Linked DNA regions of Homo sapiens: all the other regions are linked to region 1. The links come from fine-mapping of genetic effects on gene expression. A gene starts in region 1. Each other region holds a variant in brackets. All regions are shown on one strand. Distances are from middle to middle.

Region 1 (8,173 bases):
CCTTCGGCCACACTTGCCTCCTTCTTGTCCCTCAACACACCTGCTCGCTCCTAGCACACAGCTTCTGCACGACGCACCCCGTGGCCTGAAATGCCAGTTCCTGCTTTTGATATGACTTGCTCTTTCTTGCCCTGTGGCTCCTGATACCACCTCTTCAGAGGTCTTTCCTGAGCACCCCATCTGAAGATGCTACCTGGCGACCCCCATCACCACACCCAGACGCTGATACAATGGCCTGGACCATAATTCCAGTTGTCCCCTTCCCCAGGGAGAGTGGTTCTCAACTGGGGGCGATTTGGCCCCTCAGGGGACACTGGACAATGTCTGGAGACATGTGTGGCTGTCACAACTCGGGGGTGACCCTGGCATGGAGTGGGTGGAGCCCAGAGATGCTGCTTAGCACCCCACAGTGCCCAGGATAACCCACCTCAGAGAAGGATCCCACCTCAAATGTCAGCAATGCCAAGCCGGAGACCCCTGCATCCATTACTTGGGGAGAAACTTGAGTTCAACGCCTACGCTCATATTAATACTGGAATAAACTTCCCATGGAACAAGCATTCTAAACGAGGGGGACCCCCAGCTCCTGGGATTCACCTCCTTTCTCCCTCCCCACTCAGGGTGAGGATTTCAATGTGTGCAGCCTCCTGGGACCTTAGTAGGGCAGAGGATCATGGGACGCAGTCTCTTGGGGATCCATGGAATCCCCTAACCCAGGGGTCTCACCTGGGGATAACCGGCCCCCCCAGGGGACATTTTTGGTTATGACGACTGGGACGGTGAGGGGAGGCATGTGGCCAGTGGAGGCCAGCGATGCTGCTCAACCCCTTACAGTGGACAGAACAGCCCCCCTCCCACTCCTCTGCCAAGAATGACCCAACCCTAAATATCAGTGGCAAAGCTGAGAAACCCTGCTGTGGGTAAGGGGGCACTCCTCACGGGAATATCAGTTCCACAGGGCAGGCCACATCTATCCTGGTCCCAACAGATTGCCTGAGCCCAGACCATGCCTGGTCCTCAACAAACATTTCAGGTTGAATGAATGAGCTACTGTGCTTTCTTGGATGCCGTCTAAAGTCAAAGGGGCCCCTTGTTTGGTTGGTGCCCAACTACCTTCTCAGACAAGCCAGGTCCCATGATGCGCAGTTGCCCAAAGGCTTAAAGAAGAGAGGGCCAGCTGGGTACAGTGGCTCACGCCTTTAATCCCAGCACTTTGGGGGGCTGAGGCGGGCAGATCACCTGAGGTCTGGAGTTCGAGACCAGCCTGGCCAACATGGTGAAACTCCAGCTCTACTAAAAATACAAAAATTAGCCAGCTGTGGTGGTGCAAGCCTGTAATCCCAGCTACTCAGGAGGCTGAGACAGAAGAATTGCTTGAACTCAGAAGGCGGAGGTTGCAGTGAGCTAAGATTGTGCCATTGCACTCCAGGGGTGACAGAGCGAGGTTCTGTCTCAAAAACAAAAGAAGAGAGGGAAGCACATGGGGACAGGACTGAGATTTTAAGGGAAGAGGTTAAGCATAAAGTCACCACGAAAAATCACTGGCCATACTCTCAGTCCAGTGGTGAAAAGCGTGGGCTCTGGTCTCAGAGAGAAAGGTTCAAATCCTGACTCTGCCACTTCTGGGGAAGTCGCTGAACCTCTCTGAGCTTCCACTTCCCCAGCGAGAACATGGTATGACAGTATCTACGCCTGGGGCCACCAAGGGAATTGAATGAGACTGCACACATACAGCTTTTAACACAGTGTCTGATGTAGCACAAACTAAATGACAGCTAGCATTGTCAACTAAACAAGATACTCAAAACCACAGGAAGGGGGAGACTCAAACTAAAGTCCTTTCAGGGCCAGAATCCACACCATTTACTGACCGGGTCAGGCAGTGTAGGTGGATCCAGGCACCCCTCCACCAAATCCTGCTGAAATCAGCACTCTCCCCTTCCTCTCCTCAAAGCCTTCAAAAAGCTCCTTCCAGGGGCAGCTAGAGGGGGACAGGGGTGGAAAGAAAAGCCTCCAGCAGGCGCACAAAAAACTGCAGCCACTGCCCTGCGGAGGACAACCATCCAGGGCCATAGAAAACCATTTCCTGCCCATGTCTATATTCTAGAGCAGGCAAAGGAATCCCACCAGCCCACACCCCAGCCTTCCTGGCTGCCAAACCCCAGCACAACTGACCTTCTAAAGGGTCCAGAGAGCCTCCATTCCAGCTGCAGGCGTGGGACACAGACCTTTATAGGATAAACATGTCATGAATGTGGCAGGTTAATGGAAGCACCGGCCAGCCGTTCAGCCTCCCCCACTCAGGAGCTGCAGACTGTCAGGCCCGATTCTACCTGGCTAGATTCTAGCTCTGCCTTGAAGCCCTGCAGCACTGTCTGCATGCCCTGGACAGAATCTGGGAGAGAAGCCATCCCACGGGCCCCGATTCCCCTGGGACCCAGCAGAGGAATGCAGGGATTGGTGCCTACGGTCCACACCCCCTGGGCTTTAGTCCCAGCTCCTCGAAAGCAGGTTGGTTCTTGCCTGGGAGGCAAGTGACTTCCTCCTGGGGCCCCTGGGGAAGACCAGGGGGTGGGGGCCAAGGGAATAGACCACTTTTGATGGCTCAGAGGCAGCGTGAACAGGGAAGTGTCAGGGCTGGCCTAAGGCTGTGTGGGAAGAAGGTAGGCGGTTGGACAGGCCTGAGAAGGGAGGCTGAGAGAAGGGGGCTGAACCCTGTGGGCTGGACCCTTGGAAGACAGCTATGCTAACCACTACACCACCAACGCCTCGGCAGGAAAAAGAGTCTCTGGATACCCTTAATAGAGGGATCAAGTAGGGTTGAGGATCAGGACTGGATTGGGGAGACCAAGCCTCGGGGCGAAGGTTGGAGGAAGTGGTAAAGGAGTGAGGACAGGATGCAGGTCGAGGGAGGTGGCCTCTGTGCATATACAGCATTTGCATGGGGAGAGGGAGGAGATCGGGACCTCCAGAGCCTGCACGAAAGGGGAGAGGGTGTCAAGGTCTGCAGCTACGAGGACGTTCTTGGGTGCGGCCACCTCCGGAAGGGGTCAGAGCCTGGTGGCCTGGGCAGCAACGGGATGGGTGGGGAAGCCCATCAGGGAAGGGGAGAAACTGGGAGGTGGCCTGGCCAGCGCAGGAATCGGGGAGGGAAAGAAGGTGGAGGAGGGCCTGGGGCGGAGAGGAAACGAGGCAGGGGGCCGGAGGGACCCACAGACGGGTGCATGGAGGCTCCGGGGTGCGGGGAGGCCAGGCGATGGCGAGGGCAGGGTCAGGGCCGAGGCGGGGCCGGTCAATGGCGGGTTCAGGGTCGCGGCCGGGGCGGGACGAGGCGCGCGGGCGCTGCTCACCGGGACGTGGGGCGGCGGCCGGACTGGGCAGGTCGTCCCGGGTCCAGCGGCGCCTCACGGTCGCGGCTCCATGCCCGGGACTGCGACCCCGGAAGTGGCGGGAGCGGGGGACGACAGCCGCGGCGGACACAGGGGACCCGCCGGCTCAGGCACCTTTGACCCGGAAGTTGAGCGACCCAGGCGGCGGCCTGGGATTGGACACCACCAGGCACGTACCAAGGCGTCCGCGGCGCTTGGGGGGGAGCCCGCGGCGCGGCGGCCTAAGGTGCGTAACGCCCCATGAACGACATCTTCCGGTGGGTTAGGGAGAGACACCCCCCTGTGACTTGGTATCACTCAGTCAAACCCATGATCCCCCACTATTAAGGATATCCGGAGAGGATGCTACCTATCAGGGCGTTGGTGGTATAGTGGTTAGCATAGCTGCCTTCCAAGCAGTTGACCCGGGTTCGATTCCCGGCCAACGCATGCGGTACCACTTTTGCGAGTTTGAAATTTTCATTTTAGTTTTGAGACGGAGTCTCGCTCGGTCCCCCAGGCTGGAGTGCAGTGGCGTGATCTCCGCTCACTGCAACCACCACCTCCCAGGTTCAAACGATTCTCCTGCCTCAGCCTCCCAAGTAGCTGTGATTACAAGCGCACGCCACCACGCCCATCTAATTTTTGTATTTTTAGTAGAGATGGGGTGGGGTGGGGCGGGGTGGGGCGGGGTGGGGGGGGGGGGGCGGTTCACCATTTTGGCCAGGCTGGTCTCGAACTCTGACTTCAGGTGATCCGCCCTCTTCGGCCTTTCAAAGTGCTGGGATTACAGGCGTGAGCCATCAATCACGGAAAATTTTTTTAAATCCCATAAAAATGTCTAAAAGGCAGGAGGAAGGCGGAAGAGAAAGAATGGGACTAGAATCGTTCTTTCGGTGAATTTCAAATAGTATTACTCTCCGGTTAGGAAAAACAGCTGACCTGTTTCCGCCCGGGATCGAACCGGGGACCTTTCGCGTGTGAGGCGAATGTGATAACCGCTACACTACGGAAACCGGTAGGCGTCAGGGTTCTTTAAATTCTCCTATAGAGATAATGTTGCAGTGATAGTTGCGTTGTCCCACCAAAGAAACACTGGCTACAGTCAGCTAAAGCAATATCCGCTCTTCCTGAATATCTGTTATTGTATTTGATACAGTAGAGACCGAAAGAAGGAAAATAAGGAAGACAAAAAGAAATCCAATAAACACCCTTTCCAACACACCCACCCACCCACACACATGTTTATCACTTTATCATAAATCCACCTTCCATTAAAACAATGCACGTCAAACGGCCCACAAACCCATCCGGGGTCAAATGAAGCTTTTCATCTCATAGATATCAATCTATACTTGATATCACATTAGTTTCTGCAGATATTCACCATTTTGCTTTAGATCAAACTACTTTTTTGTGTGTTTTGTTTTTTGTATTTTTTAGAGAGAGTCTCGTTCTGTCGCCTAGGCTCGAGTGCAGTGGTACGATCATCCCTCCCTGCAGCCTCCACCTCCTGGGCTCAAGCGATCCTCCCACCTCAGCCTCCTGGGTAGCTTGGACCACAGGTGTGGACCACCACGCCTGGCTGAATTTTAAAAAATGCGTTTGTAGAGACGGTGCCTTATAGCTGGGACTACAGGCGTGTGCAACCACTCCCAGCTAACTTTTGTATTTTTTGTAGAGACTAGAGGGCCTGCACTATGTTGCCCAGGCTGCTTTCCAGCTCCTGACCTCAACGTGATTCGCCCGCCTGCAGCCTCCCAAAGTACTGGGATTACAGGCATGAGCCACCGCGCCCGACCCCAACTACACTGTAAAAGAGCTTTCTGAAAAGAAAAACTGTGTGTGTATGTGTTTACCTTCCGATGGAGTTTTGCTCCTGTTGCCCAGGCTAGAATGTAGTAGCGCAATCTCAGCTCACTACAACCTCCGCCTCCCGGATTCAAGCGATTCTCCTGCCTCAGCCTCCCAAGTAGCGGGGATTACAGGCACCCGCCACCACGCCTGACTATATTTTGTATTTTTACTAAAGATGGAGTTTCGCCATATTGGTCATGGCTGGTCTCGAACTCCTGACCTCAAGAGATCCGCCCGCCTGAGTCTCCCAGAGTGCTGGGATTACAGGCATGTGCCACCACGCCAGGCCTCTTTATTTTCTTAAAGAGACAGTAGAAGAGGTGGGAAGATGATGGCAAGAATTTAGAATCAGACTGCTGTAAAATTCTGCACACCCTCACTCCTGCGGGGCTGGGATTAGGGTGAGGAGACTAAAGCATTGTAAGGCACTGGCACCAGGTGCAAAAATTAAGGTGGTGCCAAAAAACTCAATAATCAAGATAAATAATATTTCAATACATCTTTTTTTCTCTCTCTGTTGTCGCTGGAGTACAGTGGCACAATCTTGACTTACTGCAACCTCCACCTCCCAGGTTCAAGCTATTCTCGTGCCTCAGCCTCCCTAGTAGCTGGGATTACAAACATGAGCCACTATGCCAGGCTAATTTTTGTATTTTTCGTAGAGATGGGATTCCACCATGTTGGCCAGGCTGGTCTTGAACTTCCGAGCTCAAGTGATACGCCCGCCTCCGCCTCCCAAAGTGCTGGGATTACAGGCGTGAGCCACTGCACCCCACCATAATATTCTTTTAAAAATTAGCCGGGCGCAGTGGCTCACGCCTGTAATCCCAGCACTTTGGGAGGCTGAGGAGGGCGGATCACGAGGTCAGGAGATCGAGACCATCCTGGCTAACATGGTGAAACCCCGTCTGTACTAAAAATACAAAAAAATTAGTCCCAGCTACTCGAGAGGCTGAGGCAGGAGAATGGCGTGAACCCGGGAGGCGGAGCTTGCAGTGAGCCGAGATCGCGCCACTGCACTCCAGACTGGGCGACAGAGCGAGACTCCCTCTCAAAAAAAAAAAAAAAAGAAAGAAAATTTAATTATTGGTTGGCCGGGAGCGGTGGCTCACGCCTGTAATCCCAGCACTTTGGGAGGCCAACACGGGCGGATCACGAGATCAGGAGATCGAGACCATCCTGGCTAACACGGTGAAACTCCGTCTCTACTAAAAATACAAAAAATTAGCCGGGCGTGGTAGCAGGCGCCTGTAGTCCCAGCTACTCGGGAGGCTGAGGCAGGAGAATGGCATGAACCCGGGAGGCGGAGCTTGCACTGAGTGGAGATCGCGCCACTGCACTCCAGACTGGGCGACAGTGAGACTCTGTCTCTAAATAAATAAATAAATAAATAAATAAATAAATAAATAAATTTAAACAAATAAAAATAAAATAATTACTGGTAAATAACTCCATCATGAACAAATTGTCAAAAGTTTCCATTGAGGCAAGTTTTCGTAGAGATTTGCCAAATTCTATTGGAGTCTAAAATGTGTACCTCTCTGTGCCTGTTTTTATGTGTTTTGAGGGGTTTTTGGGTGTTTTTGAGACAGGGTCTCACTGTCACCCAGGCTGGAGTGCGGTGGTGCAATCACAGCTCACTGCAGCCTCGACCTCCTGGGATCAAGGGATCCTCCCACCGCAAGCCTCCCGTGTAGATGGGACCACAGGTGGGTGCCACTATGCCTGGCTAATTTTTAAAAAAATTTTTAGTAGAGATGGGGTCTCGCTATCTCTCCCAAGCTGGTCTCAAACTCCTGCGCTCGAGTAATCCTCCCGACTTGGGTTCCCAAAGTGCTAGGATTACAAGGCTGAGCCACTATCCCTGTCCTGATTTTATGTATTTTAATGGTTATTTCTCTCAGAATGCTGTTGAAACCATATTGAAACATTAAAAGTAGATATATTAAAACTCACAACATTAAGAATGTATTCTAGGCCGGGCGAGGTGGCTCACGCCTGTAATCCCAGCATTTTGGGAGGCCAAGGCGGGCGGATCACTGAGGTCAGGAGTTCGAGACCAGCCTGGCCAACATGGCTAAAACCCATCTCTACTAAAAATACAAAATTAGCCGGGGGTGGTGGCACACGCCTGTAATCCTAGCTACTCGGAAGGCTCAGGCAGGAGAACAGCTTGAATGCAGGAGGCAGAGCTTGCAGTGAGCTGAGATCTCGCCACTGCACTCCAGCCTGGGCAACAAGCAAGACCTCTGTCTCAAAAAAAAAAAAAAAAAAAAAAAGACTGTATTCTAGCAAGGGCAACATAGCAAAACCCCATCTCTACAAAAAATATAAAAACTAGCTGGGTGTGGTTGTGCGCACCTGTAGTTCCAGCTACTTGGAAGGCTGAGGTGGGAGGATTGCTTGAGCCCAGGAGGTCAAGACTACAGTGAGCCATGATCATGACAAGCACTCCAGCCTGAGTGGTAGAGTGAGACCTTGTCAAAACACACACACACACACACACACACACACACACAACAACAACTCACTATGATAATTGTGCTTTTCTGGCTTTTTTTTTTTTTTTTTTTTTTAGACAGAGACGGAGTCTCGCTCTGTTGCCCAGGCTGGAGTGCAGTGGCGCCATCTCGGCTCACTGCAAGCTCCGCCTCCCAGGTTCAAGCCATTCTCCTGCCTCAGCCTCCTGAGTAGCTGGGACTACAGGTGCCCACCACCACACCTGGCTAATTTTTTGTATTTTTAGTAGAGACGGGGTTTCACCGTGTTAGCCAGGATGGTCTCGATCTCCTGACCTCGTGATCCACCCGCCTCCGCCTCCCAAAGTGCCGGGATTACTAGGCGTGAGCCACCGTGCCCAGCCAGTGGCTTTTTTGTGTGTGTGTATTTTTTTTTAGATGGAGTCTCACTCTTGTCCCCGAGGCTGCAGTGCAATGGCACGATCTCTG
Region 2 (8,173 bases), 430 kb after region 1:
CCGGAACACTTGGAACATGTTTCCCTCGCACGTGACCCCTCGAGATGCTTCTGAGACGTGCCGGGCAAGACGTCACCACAGGGAGCCCGGGCCGAGGCGCACGCCTCTGATTTCCTGTAGCTGCAAGTATATCCAGTTTTCTCAAAATGTTAAAAAGCAAACGCCGCCTTCAGAACTCGCCCTGTGGAGACTCATAGTGAAAGCACGTTCCAGGGAGGCCACTGGGAGGAAATCAGCCTGAGTCTCCAGTCAGCCCCCAGTTCCCAAATGACCCAGGCACAGAAGTTTCCCTGGAGCCCACTTGGACCCGGCAGTGTGAGCGCCATCCTCCTAGGCGGTTCTGTGCTCCTGAGAATCTGGGGCGGATCTCTGCAGTCTTCCTGACCCAGAAACCTGAGCCAGTTTCCACTGAGTTTCTAGAACGCGCCTTCCCCTCCTGGCAAGGCTGCTTCTGTGCCTGACTGAATCACTGTGTGCCACGCCTGCCAGAAGCCGAGAGGCCGAGTCGGGGCCGGGGAGCTGGGGAAAGGCAGCAGGTGGGCCCTGGGACTCCTGCAGTGGGAGCTCTAAAACCCGCTGCTGCCCGTGGCAAAGCGGAGCCTCCAAAACCCGCTGCTGCCCTTGGCAAAGCGGAGCCTCCAAAACCCGCTGCTGCCCGTGGCAAAGCGGAGCCTGGCCACGCCGGGGGTGGAAATCGCTTTCCGGGGTGCTGGGGCTCCGACACTAGGACTCCTTCACCCAGACTCTCCTCACCGGACAGACGCTGGGAAGGGGCCTTCTCCCGGTGGCTTTCCTCTACAAATGAGATGGGTAGGACGGGGCAGAGGGTGGCACCCATGTCCTTGGTTCCCAGCAGGCTCCTCCACACATCCCCGAGAGATGTGTGCTGTCGTCCCAGGACACGGCCCAGAGGCAACCGGCCATCTGAGAGTCCACACTGGGCACTCCCAGCCCTGCTTCTCCCGCCGCCTGCGCCGGCCAAGAGGCATGTGGAACCCACAGCAGACACTTGCTCCAGGGCCTACGTCTGTCTCCATCCCCACCCATCCCTGGAGGAGTCACAGGGACCGGCAGGCTTGGCTGCCCCAAGGCAGGGTCTGTGCTCCCTTGGAGAGGGAGGTGCTGCGATCCCGGGCCCCCCCGCTGCACACTACGTGGGGCGTCTAGCCCCAGACACACTTCCGCGATGGTCTTACTGTGTGACTTTTATACACTTCCGTCATGGTCTTAGTGTGTGACTTTTGTACGCTTCTGTGACAGTCTTATGTGTGCATTTTGTTCATTTTGAGACGGGGTCTTGATCTGTCACCCAGCCTGGAGTGCAGTGACATAATTAGAGCTCACTACAGCCTCCACCTCAGCCTCCTGGGTAGCTGGGACCACAGGCACATGCCACCATGCCTGGCTTGTTTTGAGTTTTTAAATGTGAAAAGCGAGCCCTCTGATATGGGAACCTTCTCCCCCTGGAGCAGAACGGCAGTCAGGCCCAGGGAGTGACCCCAGCACCTTTCCTGGCTTGGGAACACGGCGCCCATCGCAGTTATGAGGTGGGCCTGGAGACACGCCCCTCCCTGGCACGCCCTTCATGGGACAGTGTTGTGTTGCCAGAGGGCCCCTGAGAGAGTCTCCGCGAGCCTGAGCTGGCACCAAGCTTAACGAGGAGGAAGCGGGGTGCTCCCAGTGCCCCTCACCAGTCAGGCATCTGCCACCTGGAACAAGGCACCAGCTGGGGAGGCTGGAAGGGGGTGATTTTTCTCTGAGTTGAAGGGAAGAGGTGACTGAGCTGTTTTCAGAGGGCCACACATAAGCCAGGGACCCTGTCCTTCACCTTCTGGTTGGGGGCTCCTGAGCTCAGGCCCCTGAGTCCGCCTGTCCGGCCTCCCCTGCCTCCCAGGCCCTGTTAGGGCACTGCGCCTCCTGCCTGGCTCTGTGTCCACCAGTGACTCTGTCACCTTGTCCTGGGGCTGTGTCTTCATGGAGACAGATGTCTTTTGAGCTGGGAGGAGGTGAGGGGTGAGTGTTCTGTCTCCATGTGGAAGCTGCGGGGCCCTGCCTCTGCCCCAGGCTGTCCCGTCCTCCGTCATCCTTGCCCCGTGGTACGGGACCCTCAGCCTGATCCTTGTTTGCTGCAGGCGGTGTCAGAGGTGGACATGAGCTTCAGCTTGGCTGCATGTGGCCTCTAGCGGGCCCCATGCACCCAAGGGGGCTGGCCTCCCAGCTCTTGAGGCCGTGGCCTGCCTGGAGCACCTGCCATCCTGGCAGTGCCAGGCCCCTGAGAGCCACATCCCCCTGCAGGTGGAGTTTGAGGACGGGTCCCAGCTGACGGTGAAGCGTGGGGACATCTTCACCCTGGAGGAGGAGCTGCCCAAGAGGGTCCGCTCTCGGCTGGTGAGTGCGCGAGGCTGGCCTGGTGGCTCCGGGTGACTCAGGGAGCCCGTCTGGGACGAGGCAGGGCACAGACTGCGTCTTCCAATGGCGTGGACCACCCCCTCCTCTTGCACCTCTGCTGGAAGGGGGTCCCGGCCGCCCCAGCACAGCTGGTCCATGGGCTCCTGGCAGGAGACCCTTCCTTTGCCTTGACTCCTGGTGCCGCAGCTCCTGGGCGATGCCGTTAATGTGGGGAGGGAGGGTTGGAGAAGCCCCGCCCCTCCCCTTATCACGAATGCAGAACAGACCCTCCCAGCCCCCTGTGCCCTGCAGGACCCGCGCTGCCCCACCCTGCACAGGGCGGCCTCTGAACCATCACAGGTTTTGGGGTACAGGCGAAGTACGGGCACCCCAGTTGTCGGCTTAAAAAAGCTTTTCCTGAGGTTTTTCCTTATTAAACGGGAGCCTGAGTCCTGGAGGCAGCGGAGGCAGCTCCAGCTTTCGCTCCCCCAGCCCTCATGGGCTTCCTTTATTCTCTTTCTAATCGAGAGGCGAGAGGCGAGGTGTTGAGGGGCAGAGCCCGTGGGGGAGGTTCCTGGTCCTGGCCACAGCTGCTCAGCCGCAGAGGGGTCCCTCGGAAAACAGATGGGAGCTGCCAGATGGACGGTCCCAGCCCCAGCCAGGGTGCCCACCCCACTAGGGGGCCAGAGGCTGGGGCCGAGTGCAGGGCCCCTCTGCTGGCAGGATCAGGGGTTTACAAACACGAAAACAGGAGCCTGCTGAGCAGCCCCCACAGCAATCAGGGCTCTGTGTCCAGCCAGCTCCTCTCAGAGGCCATAGACAGTGGCTGGGGCCGCACAGAGTGTCTCCACCGTGCTAACCACTGTGCTTCCGCTCTCCCGCAGTCACTGAGCACGGGGGCACCGCAGGAGCCCGCCTTCTCGGGGGAGGAGGCCAAGGCCGCCAAGCGCCCGCGTGTGGGCACCCCGCTTGCCACGGAGGACTCCGGGCGGAGCCAGGACTACGTGGCCTTCGTGGAGAGCCTCCTGCAGGTGCAGGGCCGGCCCGGAGCCCCCTTCTAGGACAGCTGGCCGCTCAGGCGACCCTCAGCCCGGCGGGGAGGCCATGGCATGCCCCGGGCGTTCGCTTGCTGTGAATTCCTGTCCTCGTGTCCCCGACCCCCGAGAGGCCACCTCCAAGCCGCGGGTGCCCCCTAGGGCGACAGGAGCCAGCGGGAC[G/A]CCGCACGCGGCCCCAGACTCAGGGAGCAGGGCCAGGCGGGCTCGGGGGCCGGCCAGGGGAGCACCCCACTCAACTACTCAGAATTTTAAACCATGTAAGCTCTCTTCTTCTCGAAAAGGTGCTACTGCAATGCCCTACTGAGCAACCTTTGAGATTGTCACTTCTGTACATAAACCACCTTTGTGAGGCTCTTTCTATAAATACATATTGTTTAAAAAAAAGCAAGAAAAAAAGGAAAACAAAGGAAAATATCCCCAAAGTTGTTTTCTAGATTTGTGGCTTTAAGAAAAACAAAACAAAACAAACACATTGTTTTTCTCAGAACCAGGATTCTCTGAGAGGTCAGAGCATCTCGCTGTTTTTTTGTTGTTGTTTTAAAATATTATGATTTGGCTACAGACCAGGCAGGGAAAGAGACCCGGTAATTGGAGGGTGAGCCTCGGGGGGGGGGCAGGACGCCCCGGTTTCGGCACAGCCCGGTCACTCACGGCCTCGCTCTCGCCTCACCCCGGCTCCTGGGCTTTGATGGTCTGGTGCCAGTGCCTGTGCCCACTCTGTGCCTGCTGGGAGGAGGCCCAGGCTCTCTGGTGGCCGCCCCTGTGCACCTGGCCAGGGGAAGCCCGGGGGTCTGGGGCCTCCCTCCGTCTGCGCCCACCTTTGCAGAATAAACTCTCTCCTGGGGTTTGTCTATCTTTGTTTCTCTCACCTGAGAGAAACGCAGGTGTTCCAGAGGCTTCCTTGCAGACAAAGCACCCCTGCACCTCCTATGGCTCAGGATGAGGGAGGCCCCCAGGCCCTTCTGGTTGGTAGTGAGTGTGGACAGCTTCCCAGCTCTTCGGGTACAACCCTGAGCAGGTCGGGGGACACAGGGCCGAGGCAGGCCTTCGGGGCCCCTTTCGCCTGCTTCCGGGCAGGGACGAGGCCTGGTGTCCTCGCTCCACCCACCCACGCTGCTGTCACCTGAGGGGAATCTGCTTCTTAGGAGTGGGTTGAGCTGATAGAGAAAAAACGGCCTTCAGCCCAGGCTGGGAAGCGCCTTCTCCAGGTGCCTCTCCCTCACCAGCTCTGCACCCCTCTGGGGAGCCTTCCCCACCTTAGCTGTCTCCTGCCCCAGGGAGGGATGGAGGAGATAATTTGCTTATATTAAAAACAAAAAATGGCTGAGGCAGGAGTTTGGGACCAGCCTGGGCTATATAGCAAGACCCCATCACTACAAATTTTTTACAAATTAGCTAGGTGTGGTGGTGCGCACCTGTGGTCCCAGCTACTCGGGAGGCTGTGGTGGGAGGATTGCTTGAGTCCAGGAGGTTGAGGCTGCAGTCAGCTCAGATTGCACCACTGCACTCCAGCCTGGGCAACAGAGCGAGACCCTGTCTCCAAAAAAAAAAAAAAGCAATGTTTATATTATAAAAGAGTGTCCTAACAGTCCCCGGGCTAGAGAGGACTAAGGAAAACAGAGAGAGTGTTACGCAGGAGCAAGCCTTTCATTTCCTTGGTGGGGGAGGGGGGCGGTTGCCCTGGAGAGGGCCGGGGTCGGGGAGGTTGGGGGGTGTCAGCCAAAACGTGGAGGTGTCCCTCTGCACGCAGCCCTCGCCCGGCGTGGCGCTGACACTGTATTCTTATGTTGTTTGAAAATGCTATTTATATTGTAAAGAAGCGGGCGGGTGCCCCTGCTGCCCTTGTCCCTTGGGGGTCACACCCATCCCCTGGTGGGCTCCTGGGCGGCCTGCGCAGATGGGCCACAGAAGGGCAGGCCGGAGCTGCACACTCTCCCCACGAAGGTATCTCTGTGTCTTACTCTGTGCAAAGACGCGGCAAAACCCAGTGCCCTGGTTTTTCCCCACCCGAGATGAAGGATACGCTGTATTTTTTGCCTAATGTCCCTGCCTCTAGGTTCATAATGAATTAAAGGTTCATGAACGCTGCGAAACCCCGTTCCATGCCCCGGCAAGTGTCTTCATTTCTGAGCCTGTGCTAGGGGGACTGATGTTGGGGCCTCCCTGGGGTGGGGCTGCCTGCGCCCCGTTCTCCCGGGAGAAGGTTTGCTTCCAGAGCTGGATGTCCCTCCCCTCCCACTCTCCAGGGTCCCCAACACACCCCCACACACCCAGGGGCAGCTGTCATGCCCCTCATGCTGTGGCCAGGCTGGGTGGCTGGGGCAGCGGACCCCATGATTCCCCCTCAGTTCTCTGGAGGCCTGGCCCTGGCCTCACTCGTCCCAGCCAGCAGCTGCCCTGTCCCTGTCCCCCATCCGGTTCTGGTTACATCTGAGCCCCGAGAGCATTGCTTGTGGTGGTGGTGGCTGGCAGACGTGCTAGGCGCTGGGGCTCACGGCCCTGGATGGCCACTGGGACCCAGCAGTCCTGGCCTGGGTCACTCAGTGCCCAGCCCCACCAGGCCTGGAGTCGGCAGAGGGGACACGGGAGACCTGAGCCTCCCTCAGGGAGGTGACCCTCCTGTGCCTGGTGTGCGGCAAGAACATGAAGAGGCCCCTGTGGCTGGAGCAGAGGGAGGCAGGGGAGAGGGGGAGGAGGGGAGGCAGGGTGTGCAGGCCCTTGTGGGTCTCGGGAAGGACTTGGGCTTTGACCCTGAGGGAGGTGGGAGCCATGGAGGGGTGTGGGCAGGGGAGGGATGGGCCCTGACTCAGGTGCTCACAGGCGCCCTCTGGTGATTGCTGTGGGGAGGAGACGGGGTAAGGGCAGAAGCTAGGGACCAGGGCAGGGGTCAGGTGTAGTGAGAAGTGGGTGGATTCTGGATGCATTTTCAGTGCAGAGCCAATAGGATTCGCAGATCACCCGAGCCCCTGGAAGGAGGCGTTGAGCTGGGAGGGGGTTGGATTTGAACACCAGACGTCCAGGTGAAGGTGCTGGGTCTGGGGAGGCCGCCCCAAGGCAGGTGGTCAGGGGCCGTCAGCTGGCAGGTGTTGGAACTAGAGGATGAAGTCACCTGCAGGGAGTGGGTGGAGGTGGGGTGGGACCCAGGACTGGGCCCTGGGTGTCTGTGGTGGGACGGGGGCTGGGACACCCGGAGAAACCCAGGCCCAGCAGCCAGGGCTCGGGGGGACGCGGCCAGGCCATCCCTCCCTGGGCCCCGGCGTTCCCTCTGCAGAAGGAGTGTCCACCTGCCTGCTGTGCCGAGGGCTTGTGTCCTGAACAGAGGGTGCCCTTGACAAAAAAGCTTCATCCACCTACTGCCCCCAGCACCGACTCTCCTTTCTGGGGCCCTCTCGCCTCCAGCATCCTCTCAACACCACCAGGACTCAGTTCCCCTGTGTGCTGCAGGTGGGGAGGAGGGATCCAGGGTGGGGTGAAGCCCGTGGCCACAGGAGGCTTGGATGCTCCACCTGCTGCGATTTCCCGACAAAGACTGTGTCCCTCTTTTCTCCATCTCGAAAGCCTTCCCTGTGTGCGGGGACAGACACAGCCTGAAACCAAAGCCTCTGGGGTGCCCCCCCGCCCGCCCTAGGCCCTGTGAGGTCAGCGTCCCTGGGCCTCCCCAAGCTGGCAGAGGGGCCGTGGCAGGAGCAGGTGGTGCCTGCAGCGTCCTTTCCATTGTTCTCCAAAACGCTCTAAAACGGGAAGGCTATTTGGGACAGGCTGTTGCTGTCTGCCGAGCAGAGTAAAGATGAGTGGATAGGTCCCCAAAAGTGTCACCGTGCGGAGCCGATGAGGTCTGCACTCGGGCCGGGGTGGGTGCCCCGATGCCGAGGTCTCGTATCTCGGGGCAGTGTGTGAGACTCCGTAATCAGCACCTGAGTTTGGTTCATTTATTCCAGCTGCAATATTTTTATGCAACCTCTGTGCCAGGCTCTGGGGACACTGCTGAGGAAAAGGGAGAAAAAAACAAAAATACATCTTTAATGCATGCTCTGAAAGACAAGAACGGGGTCAGAGATGGAGGGTAAGTGGTGGTCGGTCACAGACCACCAGAAGGGTGTCAGTGGACACCCTTTTTATTAAAGAGGGACTCTTAAACAGATATGACCCCCCGATGGGACGGCAGATCAGAGAATCAGGCTGTGGGTACATTGTGTTGAGAGCAGGCACCTTCTAGGGCAAGGCCTGGCAACCTACAGCCCTCCGACCAAATGCAGCCCGCCACCTGTTTTTGTCAATAAAGTTTTGTTGGCACATGGACATGCCCATTCATTTACATATGACAGCTGGCGCCCCGACAACAGCAGACCTGAAGAGTCACTGCAGAGCCCACCTGGCCTGCAAAGCCCAATGTATTTAGAATCTGGCCCTTTATGGGAAAGAATGTGCTCAGCCCTGACTTAGAAGAAGTGGGTGGTGGCAGCCTCCACCCTTTCTCTATGCCTGCAACAAAATGTTCTCCCATAGGGACAGCCCCTCAGTGCCCAGGTCCACCTTGGCTCTCAAAGGCTTCCAGTTAGATGGACAGTGGGCAGCCAACTGCCCCCGCTGCCACCCGCAGGAGCGGGTGGAAAAAGGAGGCTTTGACCAGGGACTTTGATTCATCTGTCCATCTGTCCGACCCACTGGGGGTGCTCTGCCCTCTACCCTTGGGCCACCTGCTGCCCAAGTGCTGGGGTCGGGGAGAGCCT
Region 3 (8,173 bases), 170 kb before region 1:
GGGATTCATGGATCCACCTCTGCCCCCTCACTTCGCATGATCAGAGCCTCTCAACTTCATGCCCCACTGCACCGGCCTCACCTTCTCCAGGTAGTTAAACTCCATCGCAATCTCCCGGAAGAAGAAGTAGACATGGCTGCCCCACTCCACCGCATGGACAAAGTAAGGCTCTGCAGGACAGGAGGGGTCAGAACTCAGCCCCTGACATGACAAAGGGGGTTTCTGGGGCTAAGAACTCACTGGCTTTTATGGTGAAGGGGGGACATAGGCTGGTTACCCAGACAATATGAAACAGACTCAAAGTTTGGTATTTTGCAGGGGAAGGGAGGTCAGAAGCCTAAAATCGCTGTGTCTCTTGCTGCAAATGGCAACATCAACTATTTTTTGTTATCTTCCTCCCTCATGTGTTGAAGAGCTGAGTCCTGCTATATCTTTTCTGTGGTTCCATTTTGGGCTTCTAAGCCACCCACTTCCAGCGGGTTCTACTTTAGATCCAACTAAACTTGTTCCTCTAGCTTTCTAGTCTTCAAAAAGGCCAACAGATTCCAAAGATGTGGTGGAAATCTCTCCACCAAGCTCCTCTGGGACTCTTATTCTGGTGGGGAGATTTGATGAATGTCAGGTTCTGGGCCCTGCCAGGTCTGGGCCCACTGCCCTTCCTGGTCTCACCTTTGAACCACTTGGAGTCATGTTTCACGGTGCGCAGGGTGGGCCTGTCCCCGAGGCTGCGGTAGATGACAGCATCAATGGCTAGGAAGTCGGTAACAGTAGCTGTGAAGAGCATCCCGTCTGGATGGGGTGGGTGGGGAAGGCAGGCAAGAGATGAGACCGCAGAGGCCAGGGGCTGGGTGGGTCGAAACTCGATTTTCTGAGACTGAGTCCTGAGCCTAGGGGAGCCCCTGTCTCCAGGCTGAGCCCTGATCCCATCCAAGCCCCACCTCCATCCAAGCCCTGACCTTAACTGAGCCCCTGACCCCGGCTAAGCCCCAAATCCCGCTGAGCCTCAATCCCAGCTGAGCCCCAAACCTGGGCTGAGAGTCTGCCCATGTCACAGCTGGGACAAGTGGTCGTCCAGCTGCCTTCTAAACAACCCAGACGCTGGAGTAGAAAATGCCAGGTCTTGCCTGTGGCTGGGGCTGATCAGATGGAGGTTGGGGGGGTACTTACCAGAGAAGAGGGCAACATTGGCGTGCTTGGGGTCGTACGGGCAGCGGGCCATACCGCTGATGTTGTCTCCGACGGGCTGCAGGGTGTCTATCTGCAGGGACCATGGGGCCTGAGTGACAGATCTCCTGACCCCACCTAGCAGCCCCTGGCTCCCTCAGCCCCCCACTCCAGGGGGAATCCTGATCCACCACGGATTACTGTGTGACCTTGGCCACTCACTTAACCTCTCAGGGCCTCAGTTTACTGATCTGTAAATGGGTTTAAGAGTCAATGCCTAGTTAGACCTGTAACTGGCTCATTACCTAAGTAGCTACGGCTTCCCCGGCCCCCTGTACAGGCCTCGTTTGGACAGCGCTGACTCCTCTTGAGCTCAGGGGGAGGAGGCAGGGAGAGTATATCCAGGAAGGCTTCCTGGAGGAGGTGACACGGCCTGGGGAAAAGCCATGGCCAGCGGAGGTCGGGCGAGCAGAGGCCTGGAGGTTGGACCTGGGGCGCAGGGAGTCTGAAGACTCACGCTGTAGTTGGCGCACACCGGGTTGAAGGCGTTGGAACCGCACACAAAGAGCGTGGACTCGTCCCGAAGGAGCAGCACCTTTACGAAGTTTCGACACTCGCCCTGAGGTGGGGACAGGAGGAAGCGGGGAGCGCGATGTGGGCGTGGTCATGGTGATGGGCGTGGCCAGAACCTGAGTTGTGTGGGTGGAGGGCCGGTCTGTTGTGGGCATGGCCAAGGCAGGGGCTGAACCTAGGACTGGCTGGGGACACGGTGCGACCCAGACAGGGAAACACTTTGTATCAGCAACGCAGGCAAGGCCAGGATGGTGGGCATTGTCAGACTGTGGGCATAACCATGGCAATAGCAGAGTCCTAACCTGGGATGGAGGAGAAGGATCCGCCCTGGGTGTGGTCACGGCCGATTGGGGTGGGGCATGGTCGTGACCAGAACTAACTGGGGCGTGGTGGGCACGGTTATAGCTGATTGGGGCCAAGTTGGGAGCGTGGCCAGAGCTGGTGGGGTGGGCGTGGCCTGGGCTTATTGGGGCGGGCCGGGGGCGTGGGGGGCGGCAGGACTGATAGGGGAGGGGTCGGGATGGGGACCTGATCGATTGGGTGGGGAGTGAGCTATTGGGTGGCGTGTGAACATGGCCTGGGCTTGTTGGAACGAGGCTGGGGGTGGTGGTAGGACTGACAGGGGCAGAAGTGTGGGCATAGCCAGAACTATTTGGGGCGTGGTTATGGATAATTGTGGCTAGGCTGGAGGCCGGGCTAGGACCAATTGGGTGGGGACGTGGACGTGGCCATGGCTGTTTGGGGGTGTGGCCAGGGCTGGCAGTTGGGCGGGGCCAGGGCTGATTGGGGGTGGGTTGGGGCGTGGCCAGGGCTGGCGGGGTGGGCGTGGCCTGGTCTGATTGGGGCGGGGCATGGGTAATGCCAGGGCTGATTCGCAGGGGCCGGGACCGAGCCAGGGCCAACTCACCTCCTGTTTGCCCTTCATCCGACACACGTTTATGTCGCTGGGGTTAGATCTCCAGGTCAGCTTCTGCAGACAGAGAGAGCTGGTGAGGGGGTAACGGGTCCCAGCAGCCCTGAGTGACCCCGCCGTGCTGGGCCGAATCCACCCAGCTCCCCGGCGCAGTGCCGCGTCCCCCTGGCCCTACCCCTCCACTCCCACCTGCACCCCTTCCTCACCCTCTGGTACCGCAGCTCCGTGGACGTGGGGGGCTCCAGCTCTACGCGGTAGAGGTTGTCCCTGGGGGAGGGGCATAGTTAGTGAGAACTGGGGGCTCCGCCACCCTCTCCCGTTCCATCCTTCCCACTGCCAATGTGGTGTGCACACGGGGGCATGCAGGGCCATGCCAATGCCTCTGACACGAGCAACTCTAGCGCCGACCACACCCCCCCAAGGGCCCCAGCAGGCCTTCATATCCTGCACTCCACCTCCTGCCCGGCACGCCCCACGGACTGCCCCCAACACCATGTCCCATGGCCTTAGGTCAGGTGCCCCACTCGGCGCCTCCCAGGCGCCCACCAGGCTCTCTCCCCTCACACCCTTGCCGAGGAAGCCGCCCTGCTCAACGTCATTGGTGACCTCGTGTAGTTAAGCCCAGTGGTCACTTCCGCATCCTCCTCATCCTCTCCAAAGCATTTGATCTGTCCGGTCTCTCTCCTTCCTGGGAAGCCCATCCCTAGAAGCCCCGTAATCTCACACTTGCTTCTCCCCACGACAGCTTCCACCTGGTCCAGCCTCAATCATAGCCAGCCTGGACAGCCCAGTCCCCTCCACCCTGGTCCCCTGGATTCCATTCTCGCCCCCTCCCAGAAGCAGCCACCAGAGGGCGGGCGCGTGTGAGCACCTGAGTCAGGTCCAGTCCTTCCCCTACCTAAAACCCTCCGTGGCTCCCACCTTCCTCCGGGTCAAAGCCTAAGTCCTCCCAATGGCCCAACAGGCCCTGCACGACCTGCTCCATCCCCTCCCTGCCCTCGCCTCCTCTCTCTCTCCCCCTCGCTCATTCTGCTCGTCACACAGGCCTCCTTGCTGTCCCCAGCAATACCTGTCCCCAATGAACAGCGTCCTGTTGACCCGCAGGACTCGCTGGATGTTGAGGTCGTCAGCACCTTCTGCGGGGGTCAGGCGTCCGGGCCCGCTGCCCACAAACACGGGATAGTGGTTCAGGTCTGAGTGAGGGGGTGGAGAGGGGTGTGAGCAAGGGCTGGGGGTGAAGAGAGGGTGGCCTGAGGTCATGCCCCTTCTAGGGGTGGCTCCT[G/A]GACTGCTTGAGTCCCCCAGTGGGGGCAGCAGACCCAACTGGGAACCCAGATACTCCCACGGGACTCCACCCCCGCCCAAAGACACCCCCAGACTCACAGTCCCTGGGGGCCACGCTAAGCGGCGGCGGCTCCTCAGGAAAGAGGCCGTGGGCGCCCCCCAGTAGCAGCAGCAGAAGCAGCAGGGCCGGGCGGGGAGGGGACGCTCGCGGGGTCTGCATGGCGAGGGCCAGGCGACAGGAGGAGGTGACGCCTGCGGGCAAGGGGCGGCGAGGTGAGCGGCCTGCAGTCCCGCTCGTGGCCACAAGACGGCGGGCGAGAGCAGCAGACGCTCCTTCAAATCCCAGAAAAATTCCTCACGGGGATAATAATTAATAAAAACAATAATGGCAATAATAATAATAATACACAGCACTGATTTAATTATCAGAACAACTTTATGGCCACGTGTGCGTGAAAGCCCAGGAAACGACTTCAAACAAAACTGCATTCGGTAATTTAAAACTAATAATAATTATTATAATAATAGATACAAATATCCTAAAACATATATTTAAAAATGCAATCGCAAAATACATGCATAAAAATACTTAGAATTAAAACACAAAAATATTAAACTCAAAGGCTAAAAAAAAAAAGAGTCAAAGGCTCTTGGAATTTTATAAGCCACAAGCTGGCTGTGTGTGGTGGCTCACGCCTGTAATCCCAACATTTTGGGAGGCCGAGATGGGAGGATCATCTGAGGTCAGGAGTTCAAGACCGGCCTGCCTAACATAGCGAAACCCTGTCTCTACAAAAAAATACAAAAATTAGCCAGGTATGGTGGCCTGTGCCCGTAATCCCTGCTACTGGAGAGCTGAGGCAGGAGAATCCCTTGAACCCAGGAGGTGGAGGTTGCAGTGAGCCAAGATCGCACCACTGCACTCCAGCCTGGGCAACAGAGCAAGACTCCATCCAAAAAAAAAAAAAAAAAGCCACAAGCTGGGAATGACAGTACTACATAACCACAGAATCACAGAATATTCCCCATGCCAAGGGCCTCTGTGACCCTGGTAGATCTGACCTCCTTCCCAAATCCAGCCTTTTCATTCTCCGCTTGCACACCTCCATGACAGGCACCTCACTACCTCTCACGGGGGACTGCTTCCCACTCCCATTCAAGGTAACTTTGCAGAAACTTCTAGGTGTGTGGAGTGGAGACACTCTCCCATCCAGGTAATGACATAGCAGCGGAATTCACCCTCTGAACCCCCGCCCTCCATGCTGAAGGTCCCAGTTCAGAGCACCCCCTACCAGAAAGGGGTACAGTCCAGGTCCCGGAGCCCCGAATGAGAAGTTCAGCAGCCTCGTCCTTCTGGGAAGTATTGGGCAAGCTCCGAGCCCATTTTCCTGTCTGAGCAGCAGGGGTATCCCCCAGCCCTGCCCTGGCCTTCTGGCTCAGGGATTCTGAGCCCCCAGAGGTGAAGGTGATTCGCGACAATCGGCCCTGGGGTGCCTGCCCCCTCCAAAAACAGGAAGACCTCGCATAGCGCGGCTGGACTTCCTCTTCACGACCCTGAGCTTCCAGGATTTGTGACTCAGCGAACACCCGGATTCCACGTGTGTTCAGGGCACGGCCCTGTTTCCTTCAGAATTTCCTTCCCTGGCTCCTCCCCTGCTCTACAGCCTCCTGTGGCTCCCAGGGACCCCTGAGTCCAGGCCCCAGCCTCTCCCTGGGATTCAAGGCCCCTGACCTCAGACCCCACTTCGGCCTACCCTCCCCTCATGCCACGGGCCTTTCTAGCCCCCTACCCCAGAACCTAACTAAGAGCCCTGTCTGCCCTGTGCCTTTAAAAAAAAATGGCTAAAATATATATAACATAAAAGCTGTCATCTTAACCATTTTCATTTAACTATTATTAGTAGTATTATTATTTGAGACAGAGTCTTGCTCTGTCGCCCAGGCTGGAGTGCAGTGGTGCCATCTCAGCTCACTGCAACCTCCCCCTCCCGGGTTCAAGCGATTCTTCTCAGCCTCCCAGGTAGCTGGGACTCCAGGTGCATGCCACCATGCCCGGCTAAATTTTTTTGTATTTTTAGTACACATGGCGTTTCACCATGTTGGTCAAACTGGTTTTGAACTCCTGACCTCATGCTATCCACCCACCTCGGCCTCCCAAACTGCTGGGATTACAGGTGTGAGCCACCATGCCCAGCCTCCTTCATTCTTATTATTTTTTTGAGATGGAGTCTCGCTCTGTCACCCAGGCTGGAGTGCAGTGGCATGATCTTGGTTCACAGCAATCTCTGCCTCCCAGGCTCAAGCGATCCTCCCGCCTCAACTTCCCAAGTACCTGAGACCACAGCCACGTGCCACCACGCCCAGCTAATTTTTGTATTTTTAGTACAGATGGGGTTTCACCATGTTGGCCAGGCTGGTCTCGAACTCCTGACCTCAGGTGATCCACTCGCCTTGCCCTCTCAAAGTGCGAGGATTACAGGTGTGAGCCACCACGCTCGGCCACCTTTTGGTTTTTTGACAGTCGCCATCCTAATGGGTATGACATGCTGTGTCTTTCATCTTGTGTTTTATCAGAATAATATTTAATTCTAGAAACTATTTCTTTAAACATTAAGAGACAGGGTCTGGCTCTGTTGCCCAGGCTGGAGTACGGTGGCACAATCACCACTCACTGCAGCCTTGAACTTCCAGGCTCAAGCAATCCTCCTACCTCAACCTCCCGAGTAGCTAGGACCATAGGTGTGCACCACCAAGCCTGACTTTTTTTTTTGCCGGGGGTGGGGGACGCAGGGGAAGGTGGACAGAGTCTCACTCTGTCACCCAGGCTGCGATGCAGTGGTATGATCTCGGCTCACTGCAACCTCCACCTCCCAGGTTCAAGCAATTCTCGTGTCTCAGCCTCCTGAAAAGCTGGGATTACAGGTGTGCACTGCCACGCCCGGTTAATTTTTGTATTAATTTTGTAAAGCACTTTGTGAGGCCAAGGCAAGAGGATCACTTGAGCTCAGGAGTTTGAGACCAGCCTGGGCAACATAGCGAGACACGCCCCCATAATCTCTACAGAACATAAAAAATTAACCAGGCATGGTGGCACGTGCCTGTAGTCCCAGCTACTTGTGAGGCTGAAGCAGGATGATTGCTTGAGCCCAGGAGTTCAAGAATGCAATGAGTTATAATTGGTCCACTGTACTCCAGTCTGGGCGACCGAGTGAGACCCTATCTCAAAAAAAATAAAATTAATTTAAATTAAAACAACGACAAAAAAACACCTAGCAAACATAAAGCACTTGCTAGGTGCCAGGCATTATCATAAGTACTTAAATTAACTCATTTAATCTTCACAGCACCCCCAAGGGGTGAGTGCTCTTTTTTTTTTTTTTTTTTTTTTTTGGAGACAAGAGTCCTGCTCTGTCGCCCAGGCTGGAGTGCAATGGCGTGATCTCGGCTCACTGCAACCTCAGCTTCCCGGGTTCAAGCAATTCTCCTGTCTCAGCCTCCCAAGTAGCTGGGATCACAAGTGCCCGCCACCATACCCGGCTAATTTTTGTATTTTTAGTAGGGATAAGGTTTCACCATATTGGCCAGGCTGGTTTTGAACTCCTGACCTCAGGTGATCCACCCACCTCGGCCTCCCAAAGTGCTGGGATTACAGGCATGAGCCACTGCCCCCGGCCAATTTTTGTATTTTTAGTAGGGATAAGGTTTCACCATATTGGCCAGGCTGGTCTTGAACTCCTGACCTCAGGTGATCCACCCGCCTCGGCCTCCCAAAGTGCTGGGATTACAGTTGTGAGCCACGGTGCCCGGTGGGCCCTTAACTGTTTTTAAGTACACACAGTTCACTAGCATTAAGAACATCCACATAATTGTGCACCCATCACCACCACCATCTCCAGAACTTTCTCGACTTCCCAAACTGAAATTCTGTCCCCATGAAACACTCACTCCTCACCCCCCTCCCCAGCCCCTGGCACCTCCCATCCTACTGTCTCAGTGAACCTGATGACTCTAGGGACTTCCTAGGAGTGGGTCACACAGTGTTTGTCCTTGCGTGTCTGGCTCTCTCACTGAGCGGGATTGCCTCAAGATGCATCCACACTGTGACCTGTGTCAGGGTTTCCTTCCCCTTTTTTTTTTTTTCTTGTTTTGAGACAATATCGCTCTGTCTCCCAGGCTGGAGTGCAGTGGCACGATCTCAGCTCACTGCAACCTCCGCCTCCTGGGTTCAAGCGATTCTCCTTT

The links. PIP is the estimated chance that this variant, and not a neighbour inherited with it, causes the effect.
Region 2: its variant is fine-mapped to the expression of DPP9 in whole blood (TOPMed, PIP 0.98).
Region 3: its variant is fine-mapped to the expression of DPP9 in whole blood (TOPMed, PIP 0.99).

The regions. Positions count from the first base shown.
Region 1 is chr19:4,720,324-4,728,496 of GRCh38, forward strand. It overlaps DPP9 (dipeptidyl peptidase 9), which reads right to left and starts at 3,519. Exons shown (of 22, transcript NM_139159.5): 1 at 3,351-3,519; 2 at 2,176-2,228. It overlaps TRG-TCC1-1 (tRNA-Gly (anticodon TCC) 1-1), which reads left to right and starts at 3,747; the gene lies at 3,747-3,818. TRV-CAC3-1 (tRNA-Val (anticodon CAC) 3-1) reads right to left here and starts at 4,384; the gene lies at 4,312-4,384. LOC105372250 (a long non-coding RNA gene) reads left to right here and starts at 2,557. Exons shown (of 3, transcript XR_936274.2): 1 at 2,557-2,663; 2 at 4,297-4,386; 3 at 4,812-5,264. RefSeq lists silencers at 3,320-3,469, 3,700-3,789, 4,240-4,439.
Region 2 is chr19:5,148,063-5,156,235 of GRCh38, forward strand. KDM4B (lysine demethylase 4B) reads left to right here. Exons shown (of 23, transcript NM_015015.3): 22 at 2,296-2,388; 23 at 3,273-5,536. The coding sequence ends at 3,449. Among named protein-coding and RNA genes, the nearest start is that of PTPRS-AS1, 26 kb to the right of the region's middle. RefSeq lists enhancers at 3,202-3,973, 5,904-6,404 and a silencer at 6,162-6,221. The variant G/A (reference allele first, on the strand shown) is at 3,606.
Region 3 is chr19:4,554,307-4,562,479 of GRCh38, forward strand. It overlaps SEMA6B (semaphorin 6B), which reads right to left and starts at 5,378. Exons shown (of 17, transcript NM_032108.4): 1 at 5,224-5,378; 2 at 4,031-4,183; 3 at 3,720-3,843; 4 at 2,857-2,917; 5 at 2,645-2,707; 6 at 1,682-1,783; 7 at 1,168-1,258; 8 at 670-789; 9 at 82-170. The coding sequence starts at 4,151. RefSeq lists an enhancer at 2,431-2,725. The variant G/A (reference allele first, on the strand shown) is at 3,933.